Regions from separate parts of the Homo sapiens genome. Here regions 1 and 3 are each reported to be linked to region 2. Evidence: microRNA targets listed by miRTarBase, many of them from high-throughput screens and not tested one by one. Region 2 holds a microRNA gene; each other region holds the end of a gene's coding sequence.
What was found. Region 2 holds the annotated microRNA hsa-miR-33b-5p (GUGCAUUGCUGUUGCAUUGC, at 1,190-1,209, opposite strand). A microRNA usually pairs through its seed, bases 2 to 8, with sites in the 3' UTR of a target mRNA and lowers its output. Matches are read on the target gene's strand: a 7mer-m8 pairs with bases 2 to 8, a 7mer-A1 pairs with bases 2 to 7 and ends in A, and an 8mer does both.

Region 1: the mRNA of ITGBL1 is a reported target of hsa-miR-33b-5p. The part of its 3' UTR that is shown has no 7-base or 8-base seed match.
Region 3: miRTarBase lists ABCA1 as a target of hsa-miR-33b-5p. Seed matches in the 3' UTR shown: 8mer at 3,823-3,830, 8mer at 3,818-3,825, 8mer at 3,808-3,815 and 8mer at 2,483-2,490.

The regions. Positions count from the first base shown.
Region 1 is chr13:101,714,784-101,718,969 of GRCh38, reverse strand. ITGBL1 (integrin subunit beta like 1) reads right to left here. Exons shown (of 11, transcript NM_004791.3): 11 at 2,524-3,407. The coding sequence ends at 3,316. FGF14 (fibroblast growth factor 14) reads left to right here. Exons shown (of 5, transcript NM_004115.4): 5 at 1-4,186. Among named protein-coding and RNA genes, the nearest start is that of FGF14, 200 kb to the left of the region's middle.
Region 2 is chr17:17,812,708-17,816,903 of GRCh38, forward strand. MIR33B (microRNA 33b) reads right to left here and starts at 1,224; the gene lies at 1,129-1,224. It overlaps SREBF1 (sterol regulatory element binding transcription factor 1), which reads right to left. Exons shown (of 19, transcript NM_004176.5): 10 at 3,750-4,011; 11 at 3,500-3,666; 12 at 3,153-3,321; 13 at 2,514-2,622; 14 at 2,128-2,237; 15 at 1,908-2,040; 16 at 1,538-1,703; 17 at 862-1,062; 18 at 661-772; 19 at 1-144. MIR6777 (microRNA 6777) reads right to left here and starts at 838; the gene lies at 773-838. RefSeq lists an enhancer at 50-608.
Region 3 is chr9:104,780,351-104,784,530 of GRCh38, forward strand. ABCA1 (ATP binding cassette subfamily A member 1) reads right to left here. Exons shown (of 50, transcript NM_005502.4): 50 at 656-4,105. The coding sequence ends at 3,965. It also overlaps a transcript of NIPSNAP3B not described here. Among named protein-coding and RNA genes, the nearest start is that of NIPSNAP3B, 18 kb to the left of the region's middle.

The DNA.
Region 1 (4,186 bases), not on the chromosome of region 2:
CAGGCATATCAAAATCCAGGATGTACATGGTCTTACTTTGAGTGAAATAGTAGTCATAGCTGAGGTTTCTTAGCCTACAATGTGACATAGGGCCTGTTGACTCTCTTGAATATGGAGTAGGGTTTCAAAGTGTTGACAGTTGAGTCTGCAAACTAAGGCTGAGTTATATTTTAGTTTTTTTTTTTTTTCCTGGTTTTCACTAAGTCTAATTCCAATGTCTACTGGCAGAGATTGTGTTTGCATTTGAGGTAGTGGAGGGCGGTACTTTCCAAGTGCTGTTGGAATCCAGATAAACTCAAGGAGCCCAGAAAGACAACGGGTATAATGGCTCTCCTCTTATGACTTAGCACTTTAGTTGACTTTTTTGAAAAAGTCTCTGGGTGGAATACCTCAGTGATGATGATTTGCCAAACAAGCAGCGTTAGTGCCAACACCTTCTCTAAACTTGCTGCATCCCTTCCAATTGACATTAATCCCACTGCAACTTCCTAAAAACAGGAATGAGCCAATGAGATTTGCTTATTTTCTCTCACCCATTACAAGTAAGTTTGTTCTTGCCCTGCTTGTTTTTTAGAGGGAGTTTCTATCATAGAGTTGAAAATCACATTTAAGAAGGAAAGAGTTTATGTCTTTACATGTAACTATTTTATTTTTTCCAATCTAAATTCAATCACTTCTTAATAGATATATTGGTGTTTGCATTGCTGGCATCAAAACCACACATACACACACAAACACACACATACACACAAACATAGTGGACAGAAATAAGTAAAAATATTTCTGTTTTCAAAGAAAAAGCATTCCTTAGAGTTTAGGTACCATTAACTTCTACTATAATACAGTTCCGGTACTATGGTTTCTAACTAAATGAACACTAGAACAGAGCTGACTATATTTTCATCTTTGTCCAAAATTTTAGATGAATCACATTTTGAACTTTTTATGGTATGATAATTTCTCCAATATCTAAATTCTTTTTCTGAGAAAACAAATGCCGAGGACATTTTTGACACTCTTCTTACATGAGACTATGAAAAAGAGCAGCACTTTTGTTGTAGTTGTTGTTGTTAATAAAAAGGATAATAACATACAGAGGATTATAAGAAAAATAAGACATACCTGAGGTTTTGTGATGAGCTATAGAGAATCAAGGGCAGTTCCAGTGGAGCTGAGGCTGACAAAGTACTGCCCAGCTGCCAGCCAAATCCACCCTTAAGTTGCTTTTGTATGGCCTGGGAGCTCAGAAGGAATTTTTTAAATTTTTTTTACAGCTTTAAAGTATTAAACAGAAACCAACAAAGAAGAATATGAGACAGGGACGTACGTGGTCCGTAAAGTTTAACTTTCTGATCCTTAATAGGAGGATAAGCGCCGTGATAGAGAAATCCAAAGGTCATTTGTATTACGATGGCTAGATAATGTAATGAATTCCAATGTCTGTGCATCAGCGAATACGTCATCAAAATTGCTACAAAACAATAATAATAGGTTGTTCACAGCTTAAAATGTTTAGGTAGTGAAGAGGAAAGAATATAACCTACATTATTTATTGACTACTTATATTTCCCTCATTTTACGGAAGAGATCTATCAATTTACGTACTCAATAATAGAACTACAACATGGTTGCACTCCTTAATCTCAGGATAGAGATAACAATTTTTATAAATCTATTACATTATGAGAACATTGTTAGTACTATAAAAATCAGGATCAGTTAAATGTTCTCTTAAAATAATTTTCAATATTAAATTTTTAAGTAACTCAGTGGATGCATATTTTCCTTATTTTTGGAAATTTGACTTATAAAGTTTAAGCCATGACTAGAATATTTACATCATTAAAATAAAATTTCCAAGTAAAAATTTTCATCTTAAAGTAATACGGAAATGATTTTGCTACATTATTCTAGGATTTTACAAAGTAATTCACCTTTAGAAAAAAAGTGGTTTTTTTTTTAGCTCTAAATAATTAAAGGTTGCCTAAACTAATGTGTATAAGTAGATTTACCTGTAAATATGTAAGGGAAGTCCCAATTATTGTACACTTTCATAATTCAATGTGAATTTCATACAAAGCAAAGTTTCACCATTAAGAAAATAAACATTTTGTTCCTATCACTGAGTGAATATTTGTAATTTCTATTTAAGCCATTTCTAGATTTTTTTTTTTTTTTGGTCTTTTGTGAGCTTCTGAGATTGGTGCCATTTTATCACAGTATTTCTCGTCTTGACTTCTTTGCATGACCCCAGGTTTCCAGTAAGTAAGGTATCCTTAGAAAAAAAAGTATTTTAAGGGAAATGGATGCATACTTCAGGCCCATTTTATATGTAACTCAATATTGTCTTTTTAAAAGGCCACACTACCATGGAATAAATTAAAATAAAAAATCAGATTTCTTGTACGCATAACCCCTGCCCAGTTTTAAAAATGTGATCCCTTATTTCTAGAAACCTAAAATAGATATCCCTGAATAACAATTCATTTTTAATTATCAGTAGATATATATACTGACACAGAGTATAAACAACTTCTGTCACTATTTATTTAAAATGTTAAATTGTACATTTTTCATAATTTCTTTAAGAGAATCTTCTTTGGTGAGTTTAAAGTGAGAGTAGACAAATAACTTAGTGGCTAAATGATTTAATGTCAGATGACTTAATGACCAGTTTTTGCCCTTGATCCAGCCCCACTCTGATATTCTACCTCCTGTGTGCTTGTCTTCATTGTCCCCATATTAAAATGGTGACTGATACGGAATTCTGGAAAAATCTGATCGATTAATTAATGTGAATATGCATGTTTTCCTTAGATTCTAATATGGTCTTTCTTGTGTAAGAATGTGGATTTCTAATAGCCATATAACTCAATGTTTCTCAGTTTGAGCCCTATTGGCATTTGGGGCTGGATAATTCCTTGTTTGGGGGCTGTCCTGTACACTGCGGGATGCTCAGCAGCATCCCTGGCCTCTACCCACCAAATGTCTGCAGCATACCTTCCTACCCGACCCAGTGTGACAATCAAAATTGTCTGTAGATGTTGCCAAATGACTTTTGGGTGGAAAAATTGCTCTCGTTAGGAACCACTTATGTTAATTATGGAAGAATCTTTTTTTTCTAATGTTATTTGCATCTAAATTTGCATAACTCATTTCTAATAGGTACTCGGATTTCATTCGTAATTCAGAAATAGAAAAACATACAATGGTCTTTTTAACCTGTCCTAGTGGTGAATATACATGGTTTCCTTCGCATTTATCTGTTCTAATGGCCCAGAAAAAATAAGAATCCAGACCTCTCTCATGTAATTGTTAAGGATATTCTGAGCCAAGCCAGATTTCACATGCATTTCCATTCCATCCATCCCAGCATTCACAGTTTCCACAGCTACATATTCCATTCCCTGCAATAAAATACATATAGGTATCATGATTATGATCAAAATGTGCCAAATTTAAACATGCTATTATAAATCACAAGTGTCCACAATGAAATCATTTCATTCATCCTTGGTAGATTTTCTTATTGTGCAATGATGTTATTATTACATCTTATTAAGCAGCTGCGAGACATCTAATCTTTCAAACAATTAGTGGCATTTATTTGGTGCCACCCTTTACCGATCAGATAGTCACCATCCTGTATCACTCCAGCTAGGCTTTTAGGTGACAATTTTGTTTTCCCTTAAAGAGCAAGTTATATCTGACTTATGAATAAATACAGAAAAACATAAGGCTCTTTGACATAACATGAGGCAGGCCAAGTAATCCGTGAAGAGAGTCTTACGTAGTAAGGATGGGCAGAAAGCAAAGGTCTAACTTAATGACACACAAAGAGTCATCTTTTACCTTCAGCTAGAGCTGAGGAGAAGTATACATGTCTCTGTTTCCTCGTAACTTGGCTAAACAAATGAATTTATAACCAATTATGAGGACTCAATAAATTAGGATAGCAGTGGCTATGACACGGCTGAGCCCTCTTTATACCTCTCCCCCATACACACATCCAGTTCCCTAAAAGCAACCAACACATCAACTAGTGGTACCCAGATTCTGTTTAAAAGAATATTTCATTCCCTATACCATGTTCAAAGTAAAATGGTTGCCAACAAAATTCTTTTCTGTGTTCAATATACAACTGCATACATGTGAGTTTGAGGGTGGGGAGGTTACTTTGTGGAAG
Region 2 (4,196 bases):
CGAGTGTGCGCGCCGCCTCAGCCAGCATGCCCACGCGCTGCCCGGGCGCCGACAGGAAGCCGGGGGGCAGGTAGCAGGAGGCCAGCAGCAAGGCCTCCGCGTGCTCCCGCCGCGTGGGCCGCGGCTCCAGCTCCGCCACCGCGCCTGCGCACACGAGGATGTGTCAGGGATGGGTCTCAAGCTGGCCACGCCCCCGCGGGAGCCCTGCCCACACACAAGCCACGGCACCAGCCGCCTGTACCTGGCACACAGGTACCTGGCGGGGGCCTGGCGGGTTCCCCTCTCCCCACCCTAGTCTCAGCCCACACACAAAGTCCACAGACTGAGTCACGCACGTGCAGTCATGTATCCCACAAATGACAGTCACCCCACTGATTCCTTGTGAAAGGAATTGTCATCAGGTAACCATCAAGAAGATGCTTGGTCTTTTTTTTTTTTTGAGACAGGGACTCTCCCTGTCACTCAGGCTCACTGCGGCCTCCAACTCCTGGGCTCAAGCTGTCCTCCCAACTGAGCCTCCCAAAGTGCTAGGTGTGAGCCACTGCGCCAGGCCTGTCTGTCCCGTCTGACACACACACAGCCTCCCTTGGTATCACATCCCATGTGCGCCCTTCCCTGCTGAGCAGACAGCACATCCCTGGTCAGCAGCTGCCCCCTCACCTCCTTTGCCACCGGGGCCTGCCCGCCGCCTCAGACTGCGGTCGAGGAGCTGGTGTGTCCGTGTGGGGCTGGCCCCCGCCATCAGCCGGGCCGTGGCCTCATGTAGGAACACCTGGGGGCCAGGAGAGTGGAGGCTCAGGGCTCTCCATCTCCACCACTGCCTGACTCCCCGTCTTGAGGACAGGGCCATCGGGCACTCACCCTCCGCATGGCGGGCCGGAAGCTCTGTGCCAGCCGCCTCAGGCTGCTCAGGTCCCGTTGGAAGCCACGCAGCTCAAGGGCGGAAGCCTGGGGCCTGCTGCTGGTGCCCTGGGCTGCTGGGGCCGGGGCCGGGGGCTGCTGCTGCCGCCACAGGCTGGTGCGCACCACAAGAAGCAGGTCACACAGGAACAGCTGCACGGCCTGGGGGTGGCAGGCAGGGCAGGGGTCACCAGGGCTCCAGCTCTGGGAGGGGCAGGATGGGGGCCCGTGGTGCCAGGGGCCGGCTCCGGGCTGCACTGCCGAGGCACTGCACCCGCCTCACACACGTGCAATGCAACAGCAATGCACCGCGGGGCCGCCCGCCTCTCTCGGCCCCCACACCCGCCACCGGCCCGGGAGCAGCTGTCCAGCCCTCCTGATGCAGGGCCTCCAAAGGGATCCTACCACACCATCCACCCCCCTCCTCCCAGGGATGGGGAAACTGAGGCCAGATAGGGGCAACCCCTCTCCTCTGGACAGAAGCCTTAGCCAAAAAGCAGGGTCTGCTGGACCCCCTATCCTGTGCTGCTTGGGCTAACCCCATGGTCTTCTGCAGCCCCTGGGGGCTGGGGAGAGGAACCAGGGAATGGAAAGCTGAATCCCCCAGCCCTGCCAGGCCCCTGACCCCACCCCTCACCTTGTCAATGGAGCTGCTGGCTGGTGTGGTAGCCAGGCTGTCCTGCAGGTACCCACTGGCCTTCTCACAGATGGTCAGGCTGGCTGGACCAGACTCTGCCTTGGCACAGCCCAGCAGGGCCCGGGCAGCCTTGAAGGAGTGCAGAGCTGCCCTGGGCAGGGGTCTCCTGTTGGGACCAGGGCAGAAGAGTGCCAGTCAGACCAGTCCACAAGCCCTGGCTGAGTGCCCCCCACTTCCCTGGCTCGAGTTCCCTGAGGAAAAAAGGTGGTGACTCCTCCTGCACAGAACAAAGGCTGAGTGAGGCACAGTGCCCAGGGGATGAGGAAGGCTGAGCCCGGGACCAGGCAGGAGGAACCTGCCGTGCACTCACTCAGACTCCTGCAGCACCCGGGGCAGGTGCTCCACCAGCGGGCACAGCCGCTCAGCCGCCTCCTCATCCCGCCGCAGCCAGTGGATCACCACAGCTGTCAGAGAGGCCCACCACTTGGCCACCGGGTCTACGCCTGCAGAAGAGGGAGGGTCCCCTGAACCCTCAGTCACGCTGCACGGGGGAGCTGAGAAGGGAGCCAGGACAGGGGCCGGGGACTCACCGGTGGTGGTGGCCATGCTGGAACTGATGGAGAAGCTGTAGGCAGGAGCCCCCGCAGCATCAGAACAGCTGTTCAGCAGCTGCAGGTACCCGAGGGCATCCGAGAATTCCCTGTGGAAGGAGAGAGCTGGCTGTCGGAACAGATGGCAGGGGTCCTAGGAGGGTGCTCCCCACCTGCCCTCCAGAGTACAGCCTGGCCCCTGGCTCTGCAAAGTGCCACTGTCTCCTCCCACAGGCTGGTGGGGAGAGGAAACTCAGAGAGGAATGAAGCGTGCATGGCACGCACGGTAGCCCAGCTCTGGGCTCTCTCCACAGGGTTGAGGCCAGAGCTATTCTCAGAATCCCGCCGGAGGGGCCTTGCCTGGAGGAGGGCACAACGACACTTACTTGTCCCCATCAGCTGACCCAGGGCTGGGGTTGGGCTGGGTCACACAGTTCAGTGCTCGCTCTAAGAGATGTTCCCGGAATAGCTGAGTCACCTGGGCCAGGGGGTCCACTGTGGAGAGGAGGAGGTGAGTGGGGTGGGGAGCAGGGCCCCACCCTCCTCTCCAAGCTAAGGGCTTTTTCCTGGGTGGGCTGGGGCCACACCTAGGGCCACTGGGAAGTGCCGGCATGCCCCTGGGTGCAGCCCCTGCCAAGGACAGGGGAAAGCGGGTGGACATAACTATCACCAGCACCAGCCTTGGCCAGGAGACAACACTGAGGCCTGCCCTACACTGCTTCCAAAGGAAAACCGACTTGAGAAGATGCCATTGTTGGCTCCGCTTCCTTACTCCACAGCGGCACTGCCTGGGGTCACTTCTCCAATTAGCCATCTGCCCATCAATCCCTGCATGTGCTTCTGAAAGCCCCAATGGGAACGAGAGGCACCCAGGCCTTTCCCTTCCTGCAACCCCCACAGCAACAACCCATGGCAGGGAGAAGGACTGGGGTGGCCAGAGACAGCCAGAGATTCAGGCGACAAGGGACAGGACAGGAATGAGGATGAGGGACAGGAGAGGGGACAGGGAAGGGGTAAGAGAGCACCTGGGTTCCCGGCCAAGCTGTACAGGCTCTCCCATGGGGTACTGAGCACGGACCAGTCCCCATCCACGAAGAAACGGTGGCCCACGGGGTGGCAGAGCCACTGCATGGCAGGAGGCACTGAGCCACTCTGTGCCAGGCAGGCCTGGCGGGCACTGCTCAGGAAGAAGCGCTGTAGGGGAGGGTACTGGGCTGTCACAGTGGACACAGCCTGGGGCCAGACCCCGGGCCGAGTCCCAGCTTGGCCTGGAGTCCCCCTGGTAACCACTGCCACATCCCGTGTAGCTCTTACCCAGGGAGCCTCTGGAGAGAGCTGCAGGGATAAGCCCCCAGCCCCCCAACCCACTCACTGTCAGAAAATGCAAGGCCCGTGGGAGACTGGTCTTCACTCTCAATGCAGCCGCCACATAGATCTCGGCCAGCGTCGCCACAGACACGGCATCCCCTGCACACTCTGCCAGGTTCAGGGCACTCAGCGCCAGGTTGGTGGCAGTGAGGTGCCCGCCTGTGTGCTTCCCTGGAAGGCAAGCAGGCATGAGGCTGTGGGTGGAGCACAGGCAGCAGGGAGCACCTCGGAGCCCGCCCCACGCTCAGTCCTACCCATGGTGTGCAGCTGGTGCAGCTTATGGTAGACCAGGGCTGCGTCTCGGGCGCTGGCGCTAGCATCCACTCGCAGAGCACAGTCCTGCTGCAGGCCCCCTGCCCGGCCTGCCAGCCAGCGGCCCACCCAGAGACGCTGCAGCAGGTGACGGATGAGGTTCCAGAGGAGGCTACAAGCCAGGTCCAGGTGGGAGGTGGGCAGGGGCCGGCCCAGTGCCCGCAGGGCCAGCCACAGCTGCTGGGCAGCCTGGGCAAAGTCTCCCTGTGGATGAGGGTTTTCCAGGTGAGAAAAGTGAGGTCAGAGCAGCTGCCCCAAAGCTCAGAAGAGCCGTCCACAGCAGGCTCTGGAGGGGTGGTGGGGGTCTGCGGATGCGTGGCTAGGCACAGGGAGGACGGGACAGATTCATGGTGTGCACAGGGAGCAGGAACAAGGGTTGACACCCAGCA
Region 3 (4,180 bases), not on the chromosome of region 2:
TCTTGTACTTCCTCAAAAGGACTGTTTGACAGGGATTCTTCAAGTAGCAAAATAAGCAGACATCTCTTTCTGAAACTGATTCTTAATGAGCTATGAAAAATACATTTACATTTATCAGCACTGCTCATATGTTGTCTGCACAGCACTTATTACAGGAAAAAAGGAAGGAATCACCGATATTAGTATCATTTCTGTTTCCATATCTACTTCGCCTTCCTGCTCACCATTGCCACCACCCCCAGCACCTTCCCAGTATAACTGCTACATTGTGTCCTTATATTTTTGGTTGAATAAACAAAAGGACACTGAAGGCTGCCTTTGTAGCTTCCCCTATACCAAGTGAACATTTATTAAATAAGCTCAGCTACAGAGCATTTTCAGAAATCTCAGTGCAGCTTCATAATCATTAAGCAGAATATTTATCTAAAAACCTCTAACACTTAATACCAGTTACTCAGTATCTTAACCAACATGAAAATACAAAACAACCTTTTATTTTCAAGTAGTCCCCTCAGTTCTCTTTTATGATTAAGGGAACATTTGAATCTTTTCTAAAGTTTTTCCTTTTGATCCAAATCACTTCCCCTCTACTTTTCTAATGGCTTTATAACCCTTCAACAGTAGGTGGTGCCACAAATGCACAAAAGTAAATTTCTGTAGACCAACAGAACTGTCACAGCTTTATTTTGTGACTCATTATATTACAACATAGAAATATGCATTTTAATACTTCATATAAAGTTATTGACATACAAAATTTTTTTTCTTTTTTCCTTTTAATGAAAATGATTTAACTTAGAAATCTGTTGTGAAACTTTTGTCTAGTTTTGCAATTCTCAGATATTCCAGTGCAAAAATAGATCCCATTACAGACAGCGTAAAGTGCTTGGAATGAGGGCCAATGATGAACAAAGAGCACAAAAACAGCTTCATCTTAGGGTATAAGAAGGGATAATAGCATACCTAAATCCTTATGGAAATAGAAACATTCTAAGGGGGATGCAACAATTTTGAAAAGAATTAGAGCAATATTTCTACAGTATTACATTATTACTAGTAGATAATAACAAGGGTACAAATTAATGTCTCAATATCAAAGTGGTTCAGTATTACATGACACATGGCTCTTTGGAAAATATTTTACCTGATATATACAACCACAAGAAGAAAACACAGACAAATGGCTTTAGTCAATGATTACTATACAGTGAATGAATGATGTGCAACATTTAATAGTCACAAAGCATTTGCTTTCAGTACAGATAATGAAATACAGTAGTGTGAGGTTTGGTTGTTTTTTAACAATGAATTGTGCTGGGCATTTATGTATAGAGGGCTTATTATTTTCTTCTGTATTTCTCATATTCACAGTTGTTAATAAGTTTTCTGAGGTGTCCCAAAGATGCAAAAGCAGAAATTTTTGAACACGTATTTTGAGAATTTCTGAAACTCACATAGGTACATTCCACAGGGAATATACAGAAATTTTGCTTGATTGAGTATAGAGTTGGTAAAAATTTCTACCACAATTAGGTTTACACAGGAAAATGTAAAAAATTACTATTTTAAAAGGTAACACAGTATTAATGAAGATGTATAACTATAGATTGTTTCTAGCTTCAGAAGAGGTCCTTTCAATCTGTATTAAAATGTTGTGTTTTCTTCAAAATAGTTCACAGTGCCTTTTGATTTTTTAAAATATGGCCTTGAAATCAGAGGAACCGAAGTAAGGAGTTGCTCATAGATTTACTATAATGAAGAATTAGAATACGATTTTAGTAAAATGAGGAAACCATAACTTTGATTTTGAAAAATATTAAATGAGGAGAAATTATTCTATAAATTCTGTATTTTTGAAGATACTGTAAAATGCAACGATGCCATATCACTAGTTATTGGAAATATGCCTTCATTACTTATATTTAAAATCAATATTGACTTTAACTTCTAAAACAATCATTTTTTTCTTTTTCAGCAGTGGGTTATATAATATTCTGTAAATTTAAAAAATATAGAAAGATTAATTTGAAATCTGAAGTCTTACACCTTTAGCGTTAATATTCAAATTCTGGAAAAAGTGGAAGAAGTTAGTAATGATATTGAAAGATCACTTGAACTTCCCCAAACAATAGTTCTCTCATATTTTTCTTTTCTCTCAAGACAGTTAACAGTAAGTATTAGTGAAACAGTATTTTTACAAATGTTTACTGACTAGAAAAATAAGACTGGGTTAGAAAACTCTGAAAAATGCTCCATATGGAAGTATTTGTTGTTTTTATATTTTTCTTGACTAGTGATTGAAGAGATGAAAAATTTGAGACTGTCAGATTTAATGGGGTATCCAATATCTGCAAAGCCAATTATTTGAAGGTACTAAATGCCATAAACACAAGTTGTGTTTTTCAGCAAGTTTTCAAGCTAGCTGTTTTCCCTGTTGAAGAATTCATTGTTTAGACTTGTGACCCTTATACTTTCTTGGCTTTTGCATTGTTGCAATTAAAAAAAAAAAAAAAAAGGCTGCCCAGTATTGTTACAGTGGGCTCCTACAACCACAAGACAACCTATATTTGTAAACCAGTGAGCTGAATAACATGGCACAGGAAGTGTACTGAGACTTAATATCTCTCTAGTCTTATACGTACGTACATACTCTTTCAGCTACAGCATACACTCAAAAAATATTTGATTGATGAAGTGAGATTAAGAGTATCCTAAATGATCTGAAAGAAACTCAAATATAATGTCATGAGATCCTGACCATCACATTGCTTTCTAGGCACTAGTCATGACTGATATGCAAACTTACATAAGAAAATAAAAATAGTGGGGCAGTGGCCATACTCCTCTATACCACAGGGTTCTACAAAGAGGCCATTCTAAGGATTCAGAAGTCACTGATAGAACTTAAAATTCCAAATAACATTAAAAAGTACAAACATTTTTGTCAAAATACAACTCCATCTTTTCATTTTCTAGATTAATTCAAAAAGCCAGAAATAATACACTTGTGTCAGATAAACATCTTGAGATGCAGTGTACCATGTTAGCAGACAGTCAGGACAAATGGGCACAGGCTTCCCTAGGTTTGAACGCACAATCTCTTTAATCCCATGCCCTGGCTTCAGCAGCTTGCAGCCCCAGCAGTTTGGCTGTTGATTCTTTGCCTCTTACCAGGATCTAAGTATATTTAAGAGTCTCATAAGGATGACCCTGTAGACCCATGGCTCGAAGCATAGGACAATATAACAATGGAACCAAGTTTCCCGTGCCTGGAGACACCCACATTTTTGTTGCATGTTACTGCCACCAGAACAGCTTATCAGAGGGAATCAAAGCAGGATGTTAGCCACGCATGGCACCATTCTGTCAACTGATATTCAATGTTGATAGACTCTGAGCAGAGCAGCTTTCACAAAAGTGAGCATGACACACCATGGTGCTTCAAACTTTCTGAAAAACTTGGCACTAATAACTCTGGCACACTCATTGCCAGCAATGGATGTGTCACCGGGAAACCAGTCTCCTGGGCATGGCATGGCTTAGTGAATGAGGATGTGCATTACCTTTTGATTTTGATCAATAATCGCTGGCCATGATTACTTGATGAATTATTGTTGCAACCCCAATGAGAATACACAGGAACAAAAAAAAAAAAAAAAGTGTGAGTTCAAACCCATATGTCCATTGGGTTCCATAATAGAGTTTCACATAGGTATAGGTAAAAAACTAAATTCAAGTCTTTCACTTGAGAGCCATACAAGACATAGGCTACAAAGGCACTGCCCCTGTAATGGAATTTTGTTTTCATTGCATTGAATTGCATTGCATTGAATAGTATCAGTACAGTATCCAGTTTACTTCTTCCCACATCAACTTCTGGCTCTTTTCTCCACAACACTTCACATGGTGCAAAGGAAAGTCTAGTTCCTCTTTACTTTCAGCCACCCCGTATGAACAGGATTCTTCATACATAGCTTTCTTTCACTTTCTCATCCTGTAGAAAAGATGTGAGAACTGCAACGTCCACTACTGTCTGGTTTTTGTGTAATGAGAGGTCTTTTAAGTGGTCATCATCACTTTGGTCCTTGGCAAAGTTCACAAATACCTGTTAAAAGATTAAGATGGACCTTTATAAATACCACTCAACTTGCTCATTCTTTATTCTAGTTCTATTTTTCCA